Regions from separate parts of the Homo sapiens genome. Here region 1 is linked to region 2. A link means that fine-mapping ties the variant in region 2 to the expression of a gene that starts in the linked region. Tissue or cell type: whole blood. Region 2 holds a variant in brackets; the other region holds the start of a gene. All regions are shown on one strand. Distances are between the middles of the regions.

Region 1 (5,122 bases), 130 kb after region 2:
CAGAGTGGTGCGAGCCGACGGCGGCGTTAGAAAGGCGGCGTCCCGACGAACAGAGTGACTCGGCCTCGGCTCCCCTTCAAAGCGCCATCTTATCGCTGCTTCCCTCAGGAGCAGGCGAGCTCTTCCCCAGGACCTGCTTCGCGGCTTCCCTTCGCCCGAGAACCACCGGGCGGAGGCGGCGGCCTCTCTGGCCCTGCCGGGAACAGGGCGCAGGGGAGGGGAGCGGCGGCCGACCGGCCTGAGGCGGGCGAACGGCCTCTGGCCTCCAGGCGCTGCCTGCTCCGGCTCAGAAGCCTCCCGGATCCCGTCCCGGCCCAACTCCGGGCCTCCGCCTCCGCCGCCGCCTCCGGGAGCCCCGAGCCGCGTCCCGCCGGCGCCGCCTCTTCCGCCTGCTAGCCGGCGGGCCTGGGCGGCGTCCGCGCCGGGCGGGTCCGCTACGTCAGCGCCGCCCGCCCGCCCCGCCCCGGCCCTCAGCCTCGGCCTCGGCCTCGGCCTCGCAGCGGCGGCAGCGGCGGCGGCGGCAGGTCCCTCCCCAGACATGGCCCTGGGAGGCGGCAGCACATGGCGGCCGCGGCGGCCATGAGCGCGCCCCCGACCCGCCCCAGTCCCCCCTAGAGGCCGCCGCCCCCGCCCGCCAGCCCGCCCGCGCGCCACGGCCCCACCACCCCCGGCCCCGCCGCCCCCCGCCCGCACCCGCGCCCGCGCCCCCGCCGCCGCCATGGGCGTGCAGGGCTTCCAGGACTACATCGAGAAGCACTGCCCGAGCGCCGTGGTGCCGGTGGAGCTGCAGAAGCTGGCCCGGGGCAGCCTGGTGGGCGGCGGGCGGCAGCGGCCCCCGCAGACCCCGCTGCGCCTGCTGGTGGACGCCGACAACTGCCTGCACCGCCTCTACGGCGGCTTCTACACCGACTGGGTCAGCGGCGGCCAGTGGAACCACATGCTTGGCTACCTGGCGGCGCTGGCCAAGGCCTGCTTCGGCGGCAACATCGAGCTCTTCGTCTTCTTCAACGGCGCGCTCGAGAAGGCCCGGCTGCACGAGTGGGTCAAGCGGCAGGGCAACGAGCGCCAGACGGCACAGCAGATCGTCAGCCATGTCCAGAACAAGGGCACCCCGCCGCCAAAGGTCTGGTTCCTGCCGCCCGTCTGCATGGCCCACTGCATCCGCCTGGCGCTCATCCGCTTCCACGTCAAGGTGAGGCCGGGGATCCGGGCGGGCCGGGGACCGGGGCCGCGCCGCACCCCTATCCCCCTTCCCAGGGCGCAGAATGTCGCCCGGCCGTGGCGGCGCTGGGGGCAGCGAGTTCCCCCAGCCCTTGCCCGGGATAGCCTGGCCGGGCCGGGCTGCAAGATGGATGGCCGCGGGTGCAGGCCGCGCGCTGCCCAAGCCCGTCTCCAGCTGTCCCTGTTCGGGGTCCGCGGCCGCGTGGGGACACTTGAGGGCTGGGAGAGAGCCCCGGACCAGAATTCGGAGGCGACAGTGTCATCATCCCCAATATCCTTAGTTTTTCCCATCCTATTTGAGGCGGGCAGGCTATCACTCACCTTCAACTTTGACAAAATACTCCCTTTTCTAATTTAGCCTGTTCTTTCCCAGCAACAGGTTCATCTTGGAAGCAGGCAGGATACAGAGTAATAGAGGGGGTTTCGCCAGAGCCCTTGGGGGCTGCAAATATCAGTGCTGCTGCCGCCGCCCTTGCCAATGTTGTTAGCCCGGTGACAGCGAGACGTGTCTAAGGGCCAGTGCCCTGGCCTCTACTTCAGAACGCAGTGCCCTGTCCGTGTTCCTCTTAGTACAGGGTGTTTAGAGAATCTTTCTATGGCTTTTTGTGTTAGATTTCAAAGACCCGTGCACTTTGACAGGATGGGATTTTGTCAGTTCTGTGACTTCACGTCCGTGTGAAAGAGGTCTTTAAGGCAGTTCGGTTTTGTAGATCCCATGCGAAAGGAGTCGCTCAAAATCAGGGGGCGAACTACGCGGGCGTGAACTCGCAGGATTTATTTTTCGGGTGCACAGTAAGTATTCAGTGACCTTCAGCGGTGCCCTGACGGGTGGGTAATCAGAGCTCTATATCACCGGCCTCCTCTGGCCCTTTGGCAGAGGGCTTCGCAGCTGGCACTGGGCCAGAGGAGAACTTCAGGACCCAGCAGTGACTGTGAAGATAAGCACATCCATGATCCTGGACTTCACGTTCTGATTGCTTGCTTTTTTCATTGGTTTTCTTGAAAACAAATTTTGGGGGCCTTTTTGTTGTCTTAGCTCTTGACACTCGGTCTTCCATCTTGTCATTTGACATTTCCTTGAAACTGCTGGAGCTGAAAGTTTGTGAAATTCTGTCTTCGCGGTTGCCCCCACTGCCCGCGAGGAGATGGTGGTAGTTAAGCCTAAAATGATAGCGGAAGTCCCACCCACGATCCGGTTGCAATTGGTGAGATGGTGTTTAAGTCGTGGGTGGAGGCGGCCGGCAGAGTCCCGATTGGCCCCTGCGCCTGGCAGACACACAGCTGCCATTCCTCAGGGAAGTTCGGGTGAGAGGAAGTGCCTGCCTTTTAATTTCTGAATCGGAGCCTGGGGCGCTCAGGGAAGTAAGGTGCTGCCATTTGTCTGAAGCGATCCATCTCCCTAATAGAGCGTAAAAGTGTTCATAGTTTAGTCTTGTTCAGAGATGGAAAAGACTACTTAAAAGACAGGATGAGCTGCACTGACTTGCCTTTGGTAACCGCACAGCTCTCTACTTAACTAGTCAAGCGACTTTCAAGGGAACACTGTGAATATTACTTAGGATTAGAATCAGTATGTATGCATATGGTCACTGTATCTTTAAAGAACTGTTGAGTTCTTTTTAATTCTACAGTTTCTTTATCTTTGCACCCCTTTGAATGCCTCGCACACCTAGTAGGTGCTCAGAATTCAGACCAATGTGTCAGTGTTAGGAAACTAGATTTAAGCTCCATTTAAGATCGTCTTTTTCACTTAGGTTTCTGGACACGGGATAATGGGATAATTTTGTCTGTATTTTGCTTTTGCTAAGCTTTTAATTATTGACCTAGGGTCATATTATAGTGCGAATTGCACAAAATGAATATTGTAATAACTCAATTACTTGGTGGTCTCTTAGCTGGCAACCTTACCTTTTTGAAAAGTGCCTAAGAGATTTAGCTACTAGAAATTTCTCAGCAACCAAGCAAGATGTCAGGAAGTTTGGGTACAGTGATGTGGGGGGTTGGCGGGTGTAGGGGGGTGCTTTTGCTTTCCTCACTGAAGAATCCTTTAAGCTCTCTCACTCATGGACTGGCCTCTTTTCATATGTAATTCTAACAAGCTTGGTTATCTATTTTCTAAACTCAGCTTGAGAAGAGGATGAAGAGGAGAGTCTGCCAGAGGCAGGAGCACCATTAATAGCAAGAAGTGACAAGAGAGATTTAAAAAGCTATAAAAAGCAAACATAATTCTGGGGCTATTTTAAGAAAAGGAAAACAACCCTATGTACTTCCTTGGTCCCTGAGGGTAGTACAATGTTTATTCTATAAGGATGATTTTGAGTCATAAAAATTAATATTCAGCATTCTCTGTTTAAGGGATTGAAACAGTGTATACCATTTAATAAAAGATACCCATAAAGTGGTTAAAACGTTTAAAACCATGATATCACTACATGCCTATTAGAATGGCTAAAAGAGAAAAAAATATGAGCAATACCAAGTGCTAGCAAGAATGCTGAGCAACTGGATCCTTACACATTGCTTGTGGGAATGCAGAATGGCACCACCACTCCAGAAAACAGTGGCACTTTCTTATAAAGTTAAACATACATTTATCATACGATCCAGCAATTCCACTCCTGGGTATTTTCCTAATGAAGACTTTTGTTTGTGCAAAAACTGGTACTCAAATGTCCATAGCAGCTTAATTCATAATAGCCCAAACGTGGAAACAAAGTATCCTTTAATAAGTGAATGGTTAAACTACAGTATAGCCATACTATGGAATACTACTTAGCAATAATAAGGAAGGAATTGCTGGTGTAGGTAACAACTTGCATGAATATTTAATTAAGGTTTTATACTGAGTGAAAGAAGCCAGGTTCAAAAGGGATGATTATAAAACTATAGTGATAGGGACCAATTCAGTGGTGCTGAGAGTAGAGGAGGGGAAGGATGTACACATAAAGGGGACAGCAGGAGAGATCTTTGTGGAGTGATGGAACTGTTCTGTATTCTGATGGTGGTGATGCTACCATACATTAAAATCAGAACTATTCATCCAAAGTAAATGTGTTAATTTTATCATATGATAATTTTTTTAAGATTAAGTAAAAACCACTGGCAAAGGAATTGACATGAACAATTCAGTATATATAATGTTGAGTAAATGAGACATTTATAAAAACTTTAAGCATCTTATTGGTGCTTTCTAGTGTTTTGTAAATTGGCAGAGGGGCATAATTTCCTGTTACCTTTGCTTAGAGAAATCTTTTTTTTTTTTGAGATGGAGTCTCACTCTGTCTCTCAGGCTGGAGTGCAGTGGCGCGATCTCGGCTCACTGCAACCTCCACCTCCTGGGTTCAAGCGATTCTCCTACCTCAGCCTCCCTAGTAGCTGGGATTATAGGCGCCTGCCATCATGCCTGGCTAATCTTTGTATTTTTAGTAGAGGCGGGGTTTCACCATCTTGGCCAGGCTGGTCTTGAGCTCCTGACCTCGTGATCCACCTGCCTCGGCCTCCCAAAGTGCTGGGATTACGGGCGTGAGCCACTGCGCCTGGCCAGGAGAAATCTTTTTTGATTTAGAGATTATTTCTTTTACAGAGTAGTAATTGTATTTTTTTGTTCAGTAGTAGTAATTGTATTTCTTTAACCATTAGAAGTTGGTCTACATGGAAAGACAGCCAGAACAATGAAAATAATAATACTTTGGCCTATGTATTGACTAGTTTTGTGTAGGTCCTAAAATAGCCTAATTTGAACTTGGCTTTAGCTAGTTACTTGGACAGTGTTTCTTCTTGTGTGCCTTGGGTCATTATAACCTTTGAAACTTCAGTGAATGACTTATGTTTATTTTAAAATCTTAGTGGCATGAAGTCACTGGAGCTTTCATAAATGTTTCTGCTATATGACTTGTGGTAT
Region 2 (5,191 bases):
CTCCTGGAGATTTCAGTGGGACTCGTCCCCAGTGGGCACAACACAGCCCTTGGTGGGAGGGGAAGGCCCCAGCCTCCTCCACCTCCCACTGGAAAGCAGACTGCTTGGGACTGCCCAGCTGTGAATTGTATAGTTTCTGTACTTATTAGAACTGGGTAAATTATTTTGGTTCAAATCTATTATTCCATCAATTCAGTTAGAATTGAATTTTCTAGGTGATTATGCAGAATCTTCTGCCAGGGCACGATGCTGTCGTAAGAGATTTCTGTTCTCTGTACTGGGCCCCCTTGCCCTGTTCCTTGAGTGAAGTGGGGGCTGCCCTCACCTGTCCCCCTTGCCTGTGAATCCCTTCCTTGTACATGGTGGTCAGTGGCACGGAATCCCCAATAGATTGTATATCTGAAGGAGAAAAATAAACACTTTTGCTCGAAAACAGTGTGAAACAACATCTTTTTCTTACCCTCTATCCATATAAAATCCAAAGCAACCAGCCTCCTAGGGAGCACAGGAGTTGGGAGCCAGTTCTGGGCTCAGCTGCATCCACACCTCTGGAGGAGGGTGCTGAGGGGCTGCGGGTGCTGGGCTGGGCTGTCCCCGGCAGGGGTCTGAGAGCAGGGCATCTGGCAGGGCTGCCTGGCCCCCAACACTGCCCCCGCCAGCTGTGGCCTGGGCCCCGAGCACGGTCAGCTCTGCTGGTCGGGTTAGCTGGCTGGGCTGCCCACCACTCTGCACCTGATTACACTTAGCAGTGCCACGGGCTGTGACCATGATGGAGGGAGCCAGCCTCCTGGTCAGCGAGACACACCTGCAGCCCCTGTCTCCAGGAGGCTTGGTTTGCATTACTTGCTGCAGCCCCTGGGGCCACCCTCTTTGCTCCAGATGGGCCGAGCTCAGGGGAAGTGGGAGCTCCTCAGATGAGCTTGGACTTGTTGAGAGGAGGACTTGGGGCTGGGGTTGCCCATGGATCATGCAAGGGGCAGTGGCTTTTCTGGTAGGCACAGGGGCCTTAGGGAAGGTGGCCATCCAGGGTGGGGCCTCATCCTGTGGGACTCAGCGCATGGTGGCAGCCAGCCCCCCAGCATCCCACTAAAGACAGCCTCGAGCTGACTGTGGTCCCTCCTGCGTGTGCATTGCAGGCCTCACTGTGAGCAAGCTGAGGGTCCCAGTGTCTCCTGCCCGGTCCACTGTGGGGGCTGCCTTGGCTGTGGGGCCACCTCCTCAGAGAGCTGCAGTGCCAGCCTTCGAGCTTCTGCATGGAGGGAGGAGGAACACTCATCCCAGAGCCTCCTGTTTTGGGTGTTGGAGGGCAGCTCACTCCCCAGATGCTCCAGACGGTACAGGAGCAGAGCGTCTGTTTGGGTTTCTGGCAGCCGTTCAGTGTGCTGACTGGTCACACAAAGAAGGGTGGTCCAGGTGACAGAGGCCGCCAGGGCTGTGCTGAGGACAAGACCATCTACACAGGGCGTGGGTCATGGCAGAGCTGGCGCAGCCTTCCCGTCGGCAGCTCCTGGGAGGGTGTCAGGGCCTGGCCCTTGGCGAGTGGCCAGCACTGCGGTGGGCCCACAGTCAGCTGCGCGGTTTTGTTTTCCAGATCCTGAGAGTGAGAAGCCTGACTGACCCCGCCTAGACGCCAGGCCCACTTCACGCCGTCTAAGTGGAGAAGTGACGGACCCTCAGGGCCAGCTGCTCCTCCTGTCCAGTTCACGCTGTTTTGTAACCACTTTCTAAGCATTTTTTATTCACAATTGGAAACACAAATGTAATGCAAGAATAAAAAATATTTTGGGGCAGAAAGGACTTTGGTTTTTCAAACTATTTCCTCTCTGGTGGCCCTCGGCCAGCCAGGTGACTGGGATGTGACAGGGGTGGGGGGACATTCCCAGGACCCTGGCATGCTCAGGATAGCCCTGTTCTCTGCAGGGCCCTGGAGGTGGCGGCCCCGGGGAGGCTGATCTCCAAGTCCCCCCGATGCCAGCTGGCACGGACTCGGGGTCCTGGGTGCCTCCTGGCCTTTGCTCACGGAGCTCCATGAGGCAGACCCTTCCCTCTGGTCTTTGGAGGCTTGAAGTCACCCACCACCCCCACACCCACCTCCCAGGCACCCTCCTTCCAGAATTCACCTGCACTGGCAGGGAAAACACCAGTGGCCTGGGGCCAGAAACCTCTGGCTGTGGGGTGGCAGGTCTGAGACCACTGGCTCCTTGGAGGGCTGCATACCCCCCACTCGTGGGAGGGGTCCTAAGTGTGAGAAACGAGGAATGTTGACATGGCCTCACCAAGGAAACGTGCCGTGGTAAGGTCCCCACACCCTAGCCTGGCCAGCAGGCACAGGAGCCTTATGCTGGGTCCAGAGGTCTAGGGAGAATTTGGGGTCCCATGCATCACAATGAAAAAGCATTGCATCTCTATTTTCATTAATGTCTAACTGCAATTTAGCATTTCCTCCACTAACAGCACCTGGACTTCATCACCACTAGACACCACAGATATTGCTGTGCCATGCCATTTACATCCATGACACAGTGCCCTTCCCTGAGATGTAAAACTGTCCAGCCGGCTGATGGAGCAGCGCTGCCTGCCTATCTCAAACATGAGTCTTCAGGGCACAGTGACGCTGCTTCCCCACGGGAGTGTCGGAGATGCCATCCCGCTGTGTGCGGGTGACCTCGGAGTCCTGGCTCTTCTCCGTGTGATCAGCAGGGTAGGCCTCCTCCAAGCCTCAGCTGGGAGCAGGGATGGCACGGTGCTAGGAACATGGCTTCCCTTGGTCTTAGTTTGTGTTCTCTTCTGTTGGTGGCTCATGTGACTGGTTTTCTGTGGACCATAGTAATGCAGTTTGCCTTTT[CT/C]TTTTTTTTTTTTTTTCTTCTTTTTTTAATGAGACCGAGTCTTGCTCTGTTGCCCAGGCTGGAGTGCAGTGATGCAAACTCAGCTCACTGCAACCTCCGCCTCCTGGGTTCAAGTGATTCTTCTGCCTCAGCCTCCTGAGTAGCTGGGATTACACGTGTGCGCCGCCATCACACCTGGCTAATTTTTGTATTTTTAGTAGAGATGGAGTTTCAGCATGTTGGCTAGGCTGGTCTCAAACTCCTGACCTTGTGATCCGCCCGCCTTGGCCTCCCAAAGTGTTAGGATTACAGGCCTGAGCCACCGTGCCCGGCCGCAGTTTGCCTTTCAAACTGCACATTTATTTTAATCATTTTCTTTAAGTGAATAATAGTATAAATGTCAATGGTAAAATTTGGTGGTAGTATGGTAGTAAACAGTAGTACAATGGTCAATGAAATGGTAATGGTCAAGCCAGCACCCTCTGAGGAGATTCTGCACAGTGCACTTCCAGGACTCTGGGGCCCCGAATCCCAGCTTCATCTGCTGCTCAGAACCACCTAGCAGCCCTCCAGGGCCGCTAGGAAAAGGCCCCAAGCCTCAGCCGCAGAATCCAAGGCTCTTGGTGTTCAGCCTCACCCACTAGACGCGTCCGTGCTTCAGGCTTCACTGCTGCTGCACAGCGTGCCAGCTGGGCCCGGATATTCTTTTTTTTCTTTTTCTTTTTTTTTTTTTTTTGAGATGGAGTCTCGCTCTGTCGCCCAGGCTGGAGTGCAGTGGCGCGATCTCGGCTCACTGCAAGCTCCGCCTCCCGGGTTCCCATCATTCTCCTGCCTCGGCCTTCTGAGTAGCTGGGACTACAGGCAGCCCTGCCACCAGGCTGGCTAATTTTTTGTATTTTTAGTAGAGACGGGGTTTCACCGTGTTAGCCAGGATGGTCTCCATCTCCTGACCTCGTGATCCACCTGTCTCGGCCTCCCAAAGTGCTGGGATTACAGGCATGAGTCACCGCGCCCAGCTCCGGATTCATTCTTGACCCTCCCAGTCCCGGGTTCTCTCCTCCTCTGGGTTCTATCACACAGTCTGGGTGGACAGCTCACGAGAGCCCCAGAGACCTCAGCCCCTCATGGAGAGTTCTCATGGGTGCATATTATTTGTTATGCTTGACTTCCTGAAAGCAGGGACTTAAAATTGTTTCTGATAGCCCTTCACCTTCCAAAACAGTCACTGAGTGAAGCTGGCGCGCAATGAATTATGCTGATGAAGGCAGACTCCTTTGGGCAGATGAAGCTTCCAGTGGGTGCTTATTGGCTCTGATCACAGCATTTCTGGGATGGAAAGGACCCTGCCAGGCCTCTCCTAGGACAGCAAAGGCAGCATCACCTGGGGCCAGTCCAAGCTCCTCCTGCAGGGTCAAGGCAGCCAAGCCACAGCCTCTGCTCTCCAGTGTTGTTTTGTTTTTAGCTGACCCCAGCATCCAACCAGACTTCCAGTGTCCAGGGTGATATTGCGCCTCATCTCCAGGCTGAACAGCTTCAATTCTCTGAAAAGTGCTTATTACTAAAGGGCTGGTAAGGCTAGGCGCAGTGACCTATGCCTGTAATCCCGGTGCTTTGGGAGGCTGAGGCAGGAGGATCACTTGAGGCCAAGAGGTCAAGGCTGCAGTGAGCCGTGATCACATCACTGCACTCCAGCCTGGGTGACAGAGTGAGACCCTGTCTCTAAAACAAACAACAACAAAAAAAACAAAAACAAAAATAAAACACCTGAAGAAGCCTGTCTTCATTCATTAGAGGATGCAATTAAGCCTGGGCCAGGACGCCTGCCTTCCAGGTGGTTAAGGGAGTTCAGCAATGGTGACCACTCTGTACACATCGTGGTTGTGGTCCCTGAACTTGGCTTTATTAGACTTGCCCTTGAGAGGGGGCAGAAGGCCCACATGCCACAGGCATCACTGTGCTGGTGGTGGCTCATGCAGTCCTGCAGAGGTGTGGAGAAGAGTCCCTCACCCTGAGAGGACACTGGGGGTCGAAGGCTGCCCGAGGCCAGGCTGGATGGGGAGACAATGTTGTCCCATGCAACTCTGTGAAGAATCATTCATTTCTCACTGTGGTGGACAGCAGAGACCAGGGTCCTGGGCTGCAGGGGTCGGAGCTGCCGCCAGCTGGTTCTGCCTCCCAGTGAGGCTGTGTGGGCCGGGGCAGGAGGGCTTTGGAGCAATAGCAGTTCCTAACAGTTGATCCTTTTGAGCCCAAGCCCTCCAAATTTGATCACCAGCTCAAGGTTCTGTGAGCTGCCAGACCCATAAATCCAGCTGCCTCTCCCCCTCTCCATGGAGACCCTCAAAGTCATCTTGAAGATGCTCCAC

What was found. PIP is the estimated chance that this variant, and not a neighbour inherited with it, causes the effect.
Region 1: it holds the start of FAM120AOS, and the variant in region 2 is fine-mapped to the expression of FAM120AOS in whole blood (INTERVAL, PIP above 0.99).

The regions. Positions count from the first base shown.
Region 1 is chr9:93,451,198-93,456,319 of GRCh38, forward strand. It overlaps FAM120AOS (family with sequence similarity 120 member A opposite strand), which reads right to left and starts at 2,384. Exons shown (of 3, transcript NM_198841.4): 1 at 950-2,384. The coding sequence starts at 1,512. FAM120A (family with sequence similarity 120 member A) reads left to right here and starts at 488. Exons shown (of 18, transcript NM_014612.5): 1 at 488-1,192. The coding sequence starts at 719. RefSeq lists enhancers at 1-517, 2,097-2,226, 2,290-2,584 and silencers at 98-627, 768-897, 1,198-1,377.
Region 2 is chr9:93,318,776-93,323,966 of GRCh38, forward strand. It overlaps WNK2 (WNK lysine deficient protein kinase 2), which reads left to right. Exons shown (of 30, transcript NM_006648.4): 30 at 1,592-1,794. The coding sequence ends at 1,617. Among named protein-coding and RNA genes, the nearest start is that of FAM120A, 130 kb to the right of the region's middle. The variant CT/C (reference allele first, on the strand shown) is at 2,846.